2 separate regions of the Homo sapiens genome follow, and region 2 is linked to region 1. Evidence: fine-mapped expression QTL. A gene starts in region 1. The other region holds a variant in brackets. All regions are shown on one strand. Distances are between the middles of the regions.

Region 1 (5,390 bases):
CTTCCTCACAGGGTAGTTGTGATGATTAAGTTAATTAATACATGTAAAATGCTTAGAATAGTACATAGCACATAATAAGTGCTATGTAATTGTTAGATATTATTCTGAGTTCCAGGAATCAGAGATACATCACTGAAAAAAACAGATAAAAATCTTTGCTTTCATAAAACTTCATTCTAGAGAAACAGCAAATGAACAAACAACATATACAATATGTCAAAATGTAGCAAGAACCATGAAGAACAAAAGTAAAAAAGGAAGATAAAAAATACTGGGAGGAGGGTGGTTGGGGAACTATTTTACATAGGGTTCTCTTGGAAGGCCTCAGTGAGGTAACATTTGAGCAAAGACTTGGAAGCAACATGGTAGTAAGCCATGCAGACTGAGGCATGAGAATTGCTTGAACCCAGGAGGTAGGAGGTTGCAGTGAGCTGAGATCATGTAAGTGTACTCCAGCCTGGGTGACAGAGCGAGACTCTGTCTCAAAAAAAAAAAAATTAGTATTTGCTAGATTGCAATAATTGGTTCTTCAGGAGTTGAGTGGGGAATGCTGCCACCAGGATAAACACTATGGAATTCATTGCACTTCAAACTTTTACTTAGTTACCTTGTGCTTCTTACGGAAGTGGACAAGCTGGCAAAGAAAGGAGTTACTATGCTCGTGGGAGTAATCAACTGTGATTAGCAAAAGGATCTAGGATTGTTGCTCCACAATAGCACTAGGGAGGAATTTGGAATCCAAATAATTCGCTGGGGCTTACTAGGTGTTTCTGTACCCAGGGATAATTTGAACAGGTAATTACAGCAATCATGGCTTAACCAGAGAAAGGAAAATAAAGGCTGAAGGTGGGGGCTATTTCACCAGAGAAACAACTTAGACCAGCTGATGTGCTGGTCAATGGTGAGGGAAAATTAGAATGGGTAGTGGAAGAGGGAGTTAATACAAGTATGGTCCTGACATTGATGCAGCAGTAAAAACTGAAGCTTATTCTATTAACTCTCTTATATTAAGGCTTTGCTGAGATTGTGGCTGGCCATCACCTTGAAGAGACCTCTGTGAAGGACTGAACATAACAGAGCACACAGGCAGATCAGAGTGCTGCAAGATATGGACACCTTCTATGTCCTTCTGTGCAACTTAGGCCATGACTTCAAATCCCTTCAGCCTATTATTCTAACCACTGCTGCAGCAACCTGCTCGGAGCAGGTTTGATGACCTTTGAACAAGTGCGAAATACCAGCACCTCTCCTCTCACTTCCTGCCCCAGCATGTCTCTGATGTGGGAGTCAGCTTGGCATTCACAACTGTGCGATTTGTAAGTGTGAAGTAGTTAATGCCCAAGGGCATTAACCTTCGATCAAAGAGGACAGGAGCCGACATACAAATGCTTCCTCCGTTCTTTCCTTTAATGGACAGTTCTGAGACTCATTTCATAAAGCTTCTTAGAAGGTCCTAAGGGACTAAGAAAACATTCAAATATGGTGATGACCAACTCAGTAACACATTCTTATACTGCATCTCCCTTTTTGTTTTGTCTTCTTCCTCTTCCCTCATTTTGCTCCCTGGGATCAAATTTCCAAATAAACTATTGCATATAAGTGTCACTTTGCAGGGAATCCAAGAGGAGAGAGGATAATTTAATTTTTGGACACACAAGTTTGAGGTGTCTATAAGACATCCAAGTGGAAATGTCAGGCGATGGGCAGTATATACACAAATCTTGAGGTTCAAGAAAGAGATCTAGGCTTCTGAAATGCAATTCATTTCCCAACTTTGAGGAGGGCTATAAACATACAGGTAAATAAAAGAAAGATAATAGGACCAAAAAACACATGCAATTGTCATAGAGTGTCCACAGTAAGCATTCCGGTGCCAAGCAGGAAAGGGTCTTTGTAAAGATATAACCAGATCCTGCTCTTAAAAGGGAAGTCATTTGATGAAAGTGAAAAGTATTCTAACTACTGTTTGCTCATTTAAATTTCTAGCACATTTATCTGATCTGTACCTCTCTTTGGTCACTTATTTTGTGTCCTATTTTATATATATTTGTACCTACACCTTGTCTAGTCCTACCACACTGTGAACTCCTTTAGGTTAAGATTCATGCCTGAATCACCTCTGTACCTGGAATCAAAGTGCCTAGCATTAAAAAAAAAAGGTGCCAGGAATATTGAATAAATAAAACACCTACCTGCAACCAGCAACATTGGCATCATTTATGCATCCCAAACTTAAATATGCATAAGCATCATCTTGCTAAGATGCAGATTCTGATTCAGTAGATCTGAAGTGAGCCAGAGAGGCTGCATTTCCTAAAAAGCCCCCAGATGATACCCAAGCAGCTGATCCACGGACCACACTTTGAGTATCAAGGTCATGAGGACAATGGTTCTTGACCTTAGCTGCATATGAGAATCATCTGGGAAGATATTAAAAGTACTGATGTCTGGGTCCCACCCGCAGGGATTCTGATTTAACTCATTTAAGCTCTCCAAAGTTTAAGTAGCAAAGATCTAGAGTTAATAGAGCTTTACGTATGAAAAAAGAAAACATTTAATCGAATTTCTTCTTAAATGAATTGCTGCAAATATCTGAATAAATAACTCTTAATCCCCAACTCCCAAGTCAGTTTCTGTGCCACAAAGGCCCCGCCCCTGCCCTTCCCTGACACGCCCCTCCAATGAGGCCTTGTTCCGCCTGGCCACGCCCGTCGGTTGGCGCCCCGCCCCTCCGCGTCTATTGGCCGCTCCCTTTTTCTCCCATCGCTGCTTCTTCCTTCTCTACGCGGTCAACTTCCGGCGCGGAGTTTGTCACGTGCCCGGATATAGGAAGTGTTGGGGGAACGGCCGCTTCCCGTTCAACGCTTTATTGAGGGGCGTATCCTAGTGGCCCCCATCCGGTCTCCGTTTTGGAAGACCCGCCTCGGCACAGCCAGGCTCAGTCCGGCCTTGCGGTAAGCCTTCGGCCGCGGCTGCCCGGTAGTCCCGGCGGCGGCGGACAGACGAGCTGACAGGCACCAGGGTCTAAGGCGGCTCCTCAGTCCGGCTGCTGTCTCCACGCCTGGGGTCGGGCACCGCTCCTTCTGACCTTCCTTTCCCCGTTTGTCCCGGTAAGACGAAGTTTGGTCAGAGCATTCTCCAGTCCCTTGTCCTCGGGTCTAGGAGAATGCGGAGCTGGGAGGGCAGTCCTCACGGGCCCCATTACGGTTCCGCCCATCGGAACCAGATTTTGTTTGTGCAAAATGACCCTGATCGTAAGCTCTTTGGCGTGGTCCAGGAGAGGAGAGCGTGACTGTGCCTTCCTCTTTGTCCAAATTCACATCCCGGCCCCCCAACCCCAACTCCCCCCCACCCCCCGCCAAATCTCTTAAGTGTATTTCTCTATTTCCTTGCACAGTTATATCTTCTAGATGGCAATGCTTCATGCATTAATATATCTCAGCAGCATACAGGGCCCAATGCACACGGGCACTCACACTGACAGGCTATTTGTCACACAGTGTGGTGGTCCAACTGAGCTGAAGGAAACAACCAGTACAGAGTAAGCAGTGGATGGCTGCCTTTGGAACGTGGTCAGATATGGGTTCTCAGACCTGGAGAATAATTTTAGAGGACCTCTAGGGATTTATTTACTGACTTTCAGAAAAGTACCGTAAAGACTGAAGAGTTAATCACTCGACTCTTAGGATGTAAATGCCATAGAAACACCCGGCTTCAGGTCTTCATAAACATATCTGTCATGTTGACTACTGTAACCTAGAATAGTGTCTGCCACCTAATAAGCATGAGTATTTGCTGAATGAATGAAGAGTCACATACTGCTTTTCATTATGGCTAACTCCTTTATGAGGTATGCCCAATCCTGTCTTGTTTTGCCTCTTACTGTACACTCAGTTGCTTTTAGCCAGAGAAGGAGTATGTGGTAAACGTTGGTCCCTATTATTCATTTGACCAGTTTTTACTATTCAGTTCTAATTACCTTAATAGATATTTAAGTATCCACTAAACACAAAACTATGATGAACATCCCTCCCTTCTTTAAGAGAATTCTTGAGATAGAGAAGCTTATGATTTAATGAGCCCATTAGACGGCAAATGCAGTAAGTGCTGTAGAAATTTAGAGGAGAGATCACTTTGGATTAAGATCTTCATTGAATCAACTTCATGTAAACCATGAAGTGTAATTAGGGTTTGGATAGGGCGGAGATGATATTCCTTACATGGAAAGTACCAAAGTGAAGATTTGATGTCCAAAATGAACAGAGTGTTTGGAGTGGAATGTTTTTGAGAACATTAGGAAAACGTTGAGTAAAAGCGTGATGTGATACAAACTGTCTTTTAAAATTATCTTGTTGTTCAGGGTTGTGGGACCTTGCAAAGAGAACCAGATTTTGTAGGGTTAAGTAAAGTTGATATGAACCTGGGTCAGTATATTTGCAGTGCGAAAAGAAAGGAATAAATTACATGTAGATGGGGGGAAATCGCAGAATGTGGTAGCAGATTTCATGTTGATAAGGGAATAGGGAAGCAAATATGGTAGATTTTGAACCTGGACATTTGCTTATAGATGTGAAAGTTAGGAAAGGGGAATCTTGGAGGAGCTATAGCTGTCATGTTAGTGAATTTAAGCATTTGTTAAATGCCTAGTTTGTCAAGTTCTAGGAATACAAAGATGATTAAGACATGGTCCTACTTTTAATAGGGGATAAAATACAGCTAGCTAGAAAATACAATTCATAAATGCCGTATTTATGAAGTAGAGGGGAAGTGTTAGAGAGGTAGAAATTACTCTTTGCGTGGGGCGGCTGCAGGGAGGGGGCTACTTTACAGAAAAGATGACATTTTAGCACAATCTTGAGGGATGAATTGTAATTTCCTAGGGAGAAGAGAATTCTAGGAAAAGAAGGTTGCATGAACAAAAGCCCAGAGATAGAAAAGTAAACTGGCCAGTGCCATTGTGGCTTGGGCTTAGGAAGAAATATAACATAGTGTCTGGGCCCTACAACATATTAAGGGATTAGCAGCATGGACACTCTATAATAAGCCAAAAGGAGGAGAGGTTGGGTGAAGGTGTGGAGAGACGGAGAAGCAAGCAATTGGGGATAATTGTATTTCATGGCTTTTATATCCTCTGCAAGGTAGATTGTTAAGTCATTTGCAGAGCGGGAGGAGGCTAACTGCTAGACCTGGAAACTGAAGGAGAGTAATAAGGATTTACAACAATAGTCATGGGGAACGGAAAAAGGAATCATCAAATGAGGGATTAATTGCCGAGCAGCATTGAAAGTCTAACTTTCACTGGATGTAGATATTTGTAATGCACGCAATGAGCGTGGATATGTGGCTTTTGAAAGTGGCATTTGGTAGTCCAAGAGAAGTGAAGAAAATAA
Region 2 (5,390 bases), 54 kb after region 1:
TTATTGTTCCAGCATTGCACAGTCCCACTAAACCTTGTGAAAGAAGAAAAGATAACTGAATGAAGCATTTGAGTATAACAGACACTATACCAAAATACCAAGCAACTGTTTTGAGAACCCAGACTTAAAATTTTATGTATTATTAAATGTTAGATAAATGGGTAGTACCATACTACAAATATTTAAATGCAAAATTACCAACCTATATAGCAGTTTTATTTGCCCTATAGGTTGCATACTAACTTAAGCATTCATGTCACCATAAAATGCCTTTAGCATTTCTCAATGACTGGATGGGAAATTTTCCTTTATTGCCTAGCTGCTTGTGTTTGAGTGGTTGTCCTATGAGCAATGCATTTGGAGTTCTTCAGCTTTCACTACTTCTCTGTTGCTTGCTAATCATGTAACTACTAAAATACTGTACAAAATTGTTTTTTCACACTAACAAATGTGTATATGGAGAAGAGGGCTCATGTGATGATCATTTGTGAACTTAGATTTTTGAGGATTATGTGACTAGTAATAAATGTGAAATAAATTTTCAAAAAAGTTGACATTTGATAATATTTTTAGGTCTATCATATGCTGTCTTCTGTATTAAAGCAAGTTCTTACAAAATCCATATACAAAAATTAATTGCAAGTTTATATACCACAAAACACTTAAAAGTTTAATAATAAGTAAAGTAAGCCGGGTGCAGTGGTTCATGCCTGTAATTCCAGCACTCTAGGAGGCCAAGGAGGGAGGACTGATTGAGGCCAGGAATTTGAGACTAGTCTGGGCGACACAGTGAGACCCTGTCTCCATAGAAGAACAATTTTTTGTGGTGGCACATGCCTATAATCTAAGCCACTTGAGAAGCTGAGGCAGGAGGATTGCCCCAGCCCAAGAGTTTGAGTGAGTTGTGATTGTGCCACTGTACTCCATCCTGGGCAACATAGCAAGATATTGTCACTTGAAAAAAAAATAAGAAAAATAATAATATTGAAGATGTTTAGTATTTAGGACTAACTCTAACAAAAGATGTGCTATATCCTGAATTGTGGCCCTACTAACATTTTATGTTGATGCCCTAACCCCCCATGTGGCTGTATTGGAGATAGGGTCTTTAAGGAGACGATTAAGTTTAAATGAGGTCAGAAGAGTAGGAACCCTGATCCAATAGACTCAATGCCCTTGTAAGAAGAGGAAGAGACAGCAGAGCTCACTCTCCCTCTGCTGTGGGAGGGCACAATGAGAAGGCAGCTGTCTGCAAACCAGGAAGAGAGCCCTCACCAGAACCTGACCATGCTGGCACCATGATCTCAGACTTCCAGCCTCCAAAACTGAGAAAATAGTTTGGCAGCCCAAGCTAATACAAGATGTATAAGACATTTATGGAGAAATTAGAACTACTGAAAGATATTAAAGAAAACCAAAATAAGTGAAGAAGTATTTAATGTTTCCAGATAAGAACACATATACTAAAGTAGAAATGGCAGTCCTTTTTGTTTTGTTTTGTTTTGTTTGTTTTTTTTTGAGAGAGACAGGATCTCTCAGCTCTGTTACCCAGGCTGGAGTGCAGTGGTGTGATGATAGCTCACGGCAGCCTCTATCTCCTGGGCTCAAGTGATCCTCCCACCTCAGCCTCCCAAGCAGCTGAGACTACAGATGTGCACCACCACATCTGGCTAATTTTATTTTTTGTAGGAATGGGGTCTCACTATGTTTCTCAGGCTGATCTCAAACTCCTGGGTTCAAGTGAGGCTTCTGCCTCAGCCTCCCAAAGCACTAGGATTACAGGTGTGAGGCACTGCACCAGCTGGCAGTTATTTTCAAGTTTAAAGATTCAGCACAGTTCCAGTCAAAATCACAACTGTCTTTGTTTGGTTTTGTTTCTGTAGGACTTGACAAGCTGATTCTAAAATTTATATGAAAGATCAAAAGACTAATAGCCAATACTCCCCTTGGAAGCTGGAAGGAGTTTCCTTATCAAGAATTATAATTAAAGCAGCATTTTATTGGTACGAAGATAAACAAATAGACCAGTGGAATGAAACTGAGAGCCCAGAAACAGAACCATAAAAAATGGACTATTACCCGTGTGGCACGGCAAGTCAGTGGGGAAACGATAGACTTGGAATAAATGGTACTGAGACATTTGGTAGTCCATAAGAGAAAAGGTGAAAATGGAACACGTGTCTCACACCACACACACAAAATGAATTCCACGTGTACTGAATACCTAAATGTGAAAGGCAAAAACTATATAGAACTTTTCAAAGACAGTGTAAGAAAATATCTTTTTTGCCTCAGGACAGAGAAGGATTTTGTTTAAAAAGACACAAAATTGCAAATTGGAAAAAAATAATAGATTTGACTATATTAAAAATAAGAACTTAATGGTCTTTTGATGAAAGTGAAATAACAGTCCACAAATTAAGAGAATATAACTGCAACACGTCACAAAACAATCAGCATCCAAAGCCTATTTTTAAGCTCCCAAAAATCAGTCTAAAAAAAAAAAACCATAGAACAGAAAAACCCAAAAACCTTACAAAGGCATTTCACAGACGAAGGAAACAGAATGGCTAATAAACATACGAAGTATTCACCTTTATTTGTTATCAAGGAAATGTGAATTCAAAAGGATGTGAAGCCATCAAAACACAAATGCTTCTATAATCACTTAAACCATCTGACATTATCTAGTAAAGATGTGTGTCACCTATGACTCAGTAATTCCAGTCTTAGGTGTGTGCCCCAAAGGAATAGATCTTAAAATCCTGTATGTCTCTGCCAGATACCCTCCCCTTCGTTTCCTGCTTTACACATTAGAATAACCTATGTGCTTATAAATACATGTGGCTGGGCCCCAGACATTACATTTCAATTGGTCCAGAGTGGGGCCCAAGCATCTATGGTTTTTAAAAGCTTCCCACTAATTCTGGTACTCTAAGGATTGAGAACCACTGCCACAAAGAAACTCATGTATTATGAATTAATATTAGGTTGGTGCCAAAGTCATTGCCATTAAAAGTAATGGCAAAAACTGCAATTACTTTTGCACCAAACTAATACAAAGTCTAATGAAAGTTCCCATCACTACTTTTGTTTGTAATAACAAAAAACTGCAAATAACTGCAAAAAACTGCAAATAACCCATATGTCCATAATGGTAGAATGGATAGATTGAGGTATATATTCATTCAGTAGAATACCAATACAGTAGTGAAAATGAAAGTAAATTTCTGCTATACAAA[C/A]AATGTACATTAATGACAAGAAAATAATGTCAGATGAAAGTAAATCACAAAATACATGCAGTATGATCCTATTAATATAAAAATTCAGAAACCTTTAAGATTAAATAATATGTGGTTTGGGATTACAAATGTAAAACTAAAGAAAAGAGAATGATAAAATTCTGGAGTGATTGGAGGAGCAGGAAAGGAAGGGGATGGTGTCTGGCAGGGACATACAGGATTTCAAAGGGATATTAGAATATTCTTAAACTGGACAGTGCATACACAGATTTTTTGTATCCTGATACTTTATATCCTATATATAGTTTATAATTTTTTTTTTGAGACAGGGTCTCGCTCTGTCACCCAAGCTGGAGTACAGTGGCACGATCACAACTTGCTGCAGCCTCAACCTCCTGGGCCCAAGCAATCCTCCCACCTCAGCCTCCCAAGTAGCTGTGACTACAGGTGCATGCCACCATGTCCTGCGAATTTTTTTTTTTTTTTTTAAAGAAGGGGTTTTGCTATGTTGCCCAAGCTGGTCTCAGACTCCTGGCCTCAAGTGATCTGCCCACCTCAGCCTCCCAAAGTGCTGGGGTTACAGGCATGAGCCATCATGCCCAGTCATAAATCTTATTTTATATCAATTCAACACTTGATTTAAATATTTAAAATCAAATTCATATATGTGGATATGCATATATCTTTACTGATAGATAATGAAACCTAGACATTTATAGATAAGATCTAGGACCAAAGGAGATTTTAGTGCCTTGATCAAGGTCCAAGCCAGGTATTAACAGAGCTGATATTCCACACAACACCAAATTCCCTCTCAAAGTGCCAAACACTTCCTTTTCTCTATTGATATCAGGGATGACACAGATATAAACATATACCACCTCCAAGGACAAAACAGTGTCTGGTATCTTCATTAGCAGGCAATGGTTAATTGTAATGAGGTGATATGGCTCTTACTTAAAAGGTGGTGGATAACTCCCATCAGTTATAGTTTTATAAACCTTAAAGATCTATACTATTATTTGCTAGAAGTGATAACAAGAGAGGAACACAGAACTTTTAAACAAACTGTTGAAAATCATAACTTAGAGAATATTTGTAGATGAGAAAGTACTAAGAAAGTAAAAATAGCTTTTCCAGGAAAGTTAAATGTGTAATATCAATGGTGTCAAAGATTATTAGTTCTCATGGCTATATGCTTTGGGATCCTCTACTTCAATGTTTCTCATTGTATTTATTAAACAACTGGGAATCTTGTTGAAATGCATATTCTGATTCAATAGGTTTTGTGTCGCCCAAGATTCTGCATTTCTTACAAGCTCCCAAGTAGCATCAATGCTGCTGTTCCACAGCCCCTGCAGTTCAAGTTGCAAAGCTTTGAAGTGTAAAGTTACATCATTTGTGCCTCTGAATGACACTAGGCACCAAGGATATATATATCCTTCATATATATGGTATATATCCTTCATATATATGGTATATATATATCAATATATATGATATATATATCCTTCATACATTATATATATGAATGTATATGATATATGTCCTTCATATATATGATATATGTATATGAAGGAATACTAGTCAGCCATAAAAAGGAATGAATTAACAGCATTTGCAGTGACCTGGATGAGATTGGAGACTATTATTCAGAGTGAAGTAACTCAGGAATGGAAAACAAAACATTGTATGTTCTCACTGATATGTGGGAGTTAAGCTATGAGGATGCAAAGGCATAAGAATGATACAATGGGCTTTGGGGACTCGGCGGCAAGAGGGGGTTGCAAGGGATAGAAGACTACAAATATGGTGCAGTGTAGACTGCTCGGGTGATGGGTGCACCAAAATCTCACAAATCGCCAGTAAAGAACTTACTCATGTAAGCTGACACCACCTCTACCCCAATAACTTATGGAAAATTTTTTAAAAAGAGAGGATGGGGGAAGAAAGTCAAAAGGCGGTGGGATAGATGAAACAGGGAAGAAGAATATATTAACATAGATGGAGAAAGCGTTATAGGACCAACAGGCTCATGTGCCTGCTGCAGTAACAGACCAATTACACAGAGATAGCGGAGATGCCACACACAGTTTAATGACTGTAGGTGTCTGGGCACGTGGCTCACGCCTGTAATTTCCACATTTT

Which allele goes with the higher level. Positions count from the first base shown, and alleles are read on the strand shown. Sizes are in standard deviations (SD) of each study's normalised expression.
As copies of C replace A in region 2, the expression in fibroblasts of the gene that starts at base 2,805 in region 1 goes up (small effect, 0.25 SD a copy in GTEx).

The links. PIP is the estimated chance that this variant, and not a neighbour inherited with it, causes the effect.
Region 2: its variant is the best candidate, but not a certain one, in a credible set for the expression of EXOC1 in fibroblasts (GTEx, PIP 0.50).

Annotation. Positions count from the first base shown.
Region 1 is chr4:55,850,844-55,856,233 of GRCh38, forward strand. EXOC1 (exocyst complex component 1) reads left to right here and starts at 2,805. Exons shown (of 19, transcript NM_001024924.2): 1 at 2,805-3,110. RefSeq lists a silencer at 2,597-2,696.
Region 2 is chr4:55,904,465-55,909,854 of GRCh38, forward strand. EXOC1 (exocyst complex component 1) reads left to right here. Exons shown (of 19, transcript NM_001024924.2): 19 at 1-622. The coding sequence ends at 31. All of the region lies in intron 3 of EXOC1-AS1 (EXOC1 antisense RNA 1), which reads right to left. Among named protein-coding and RNA genes, the nearest start is that of EXOC1-AS1, 41 kb to the right of the region's middle. The variant C/A (reference allele first, on the strand shown) is at 3,243.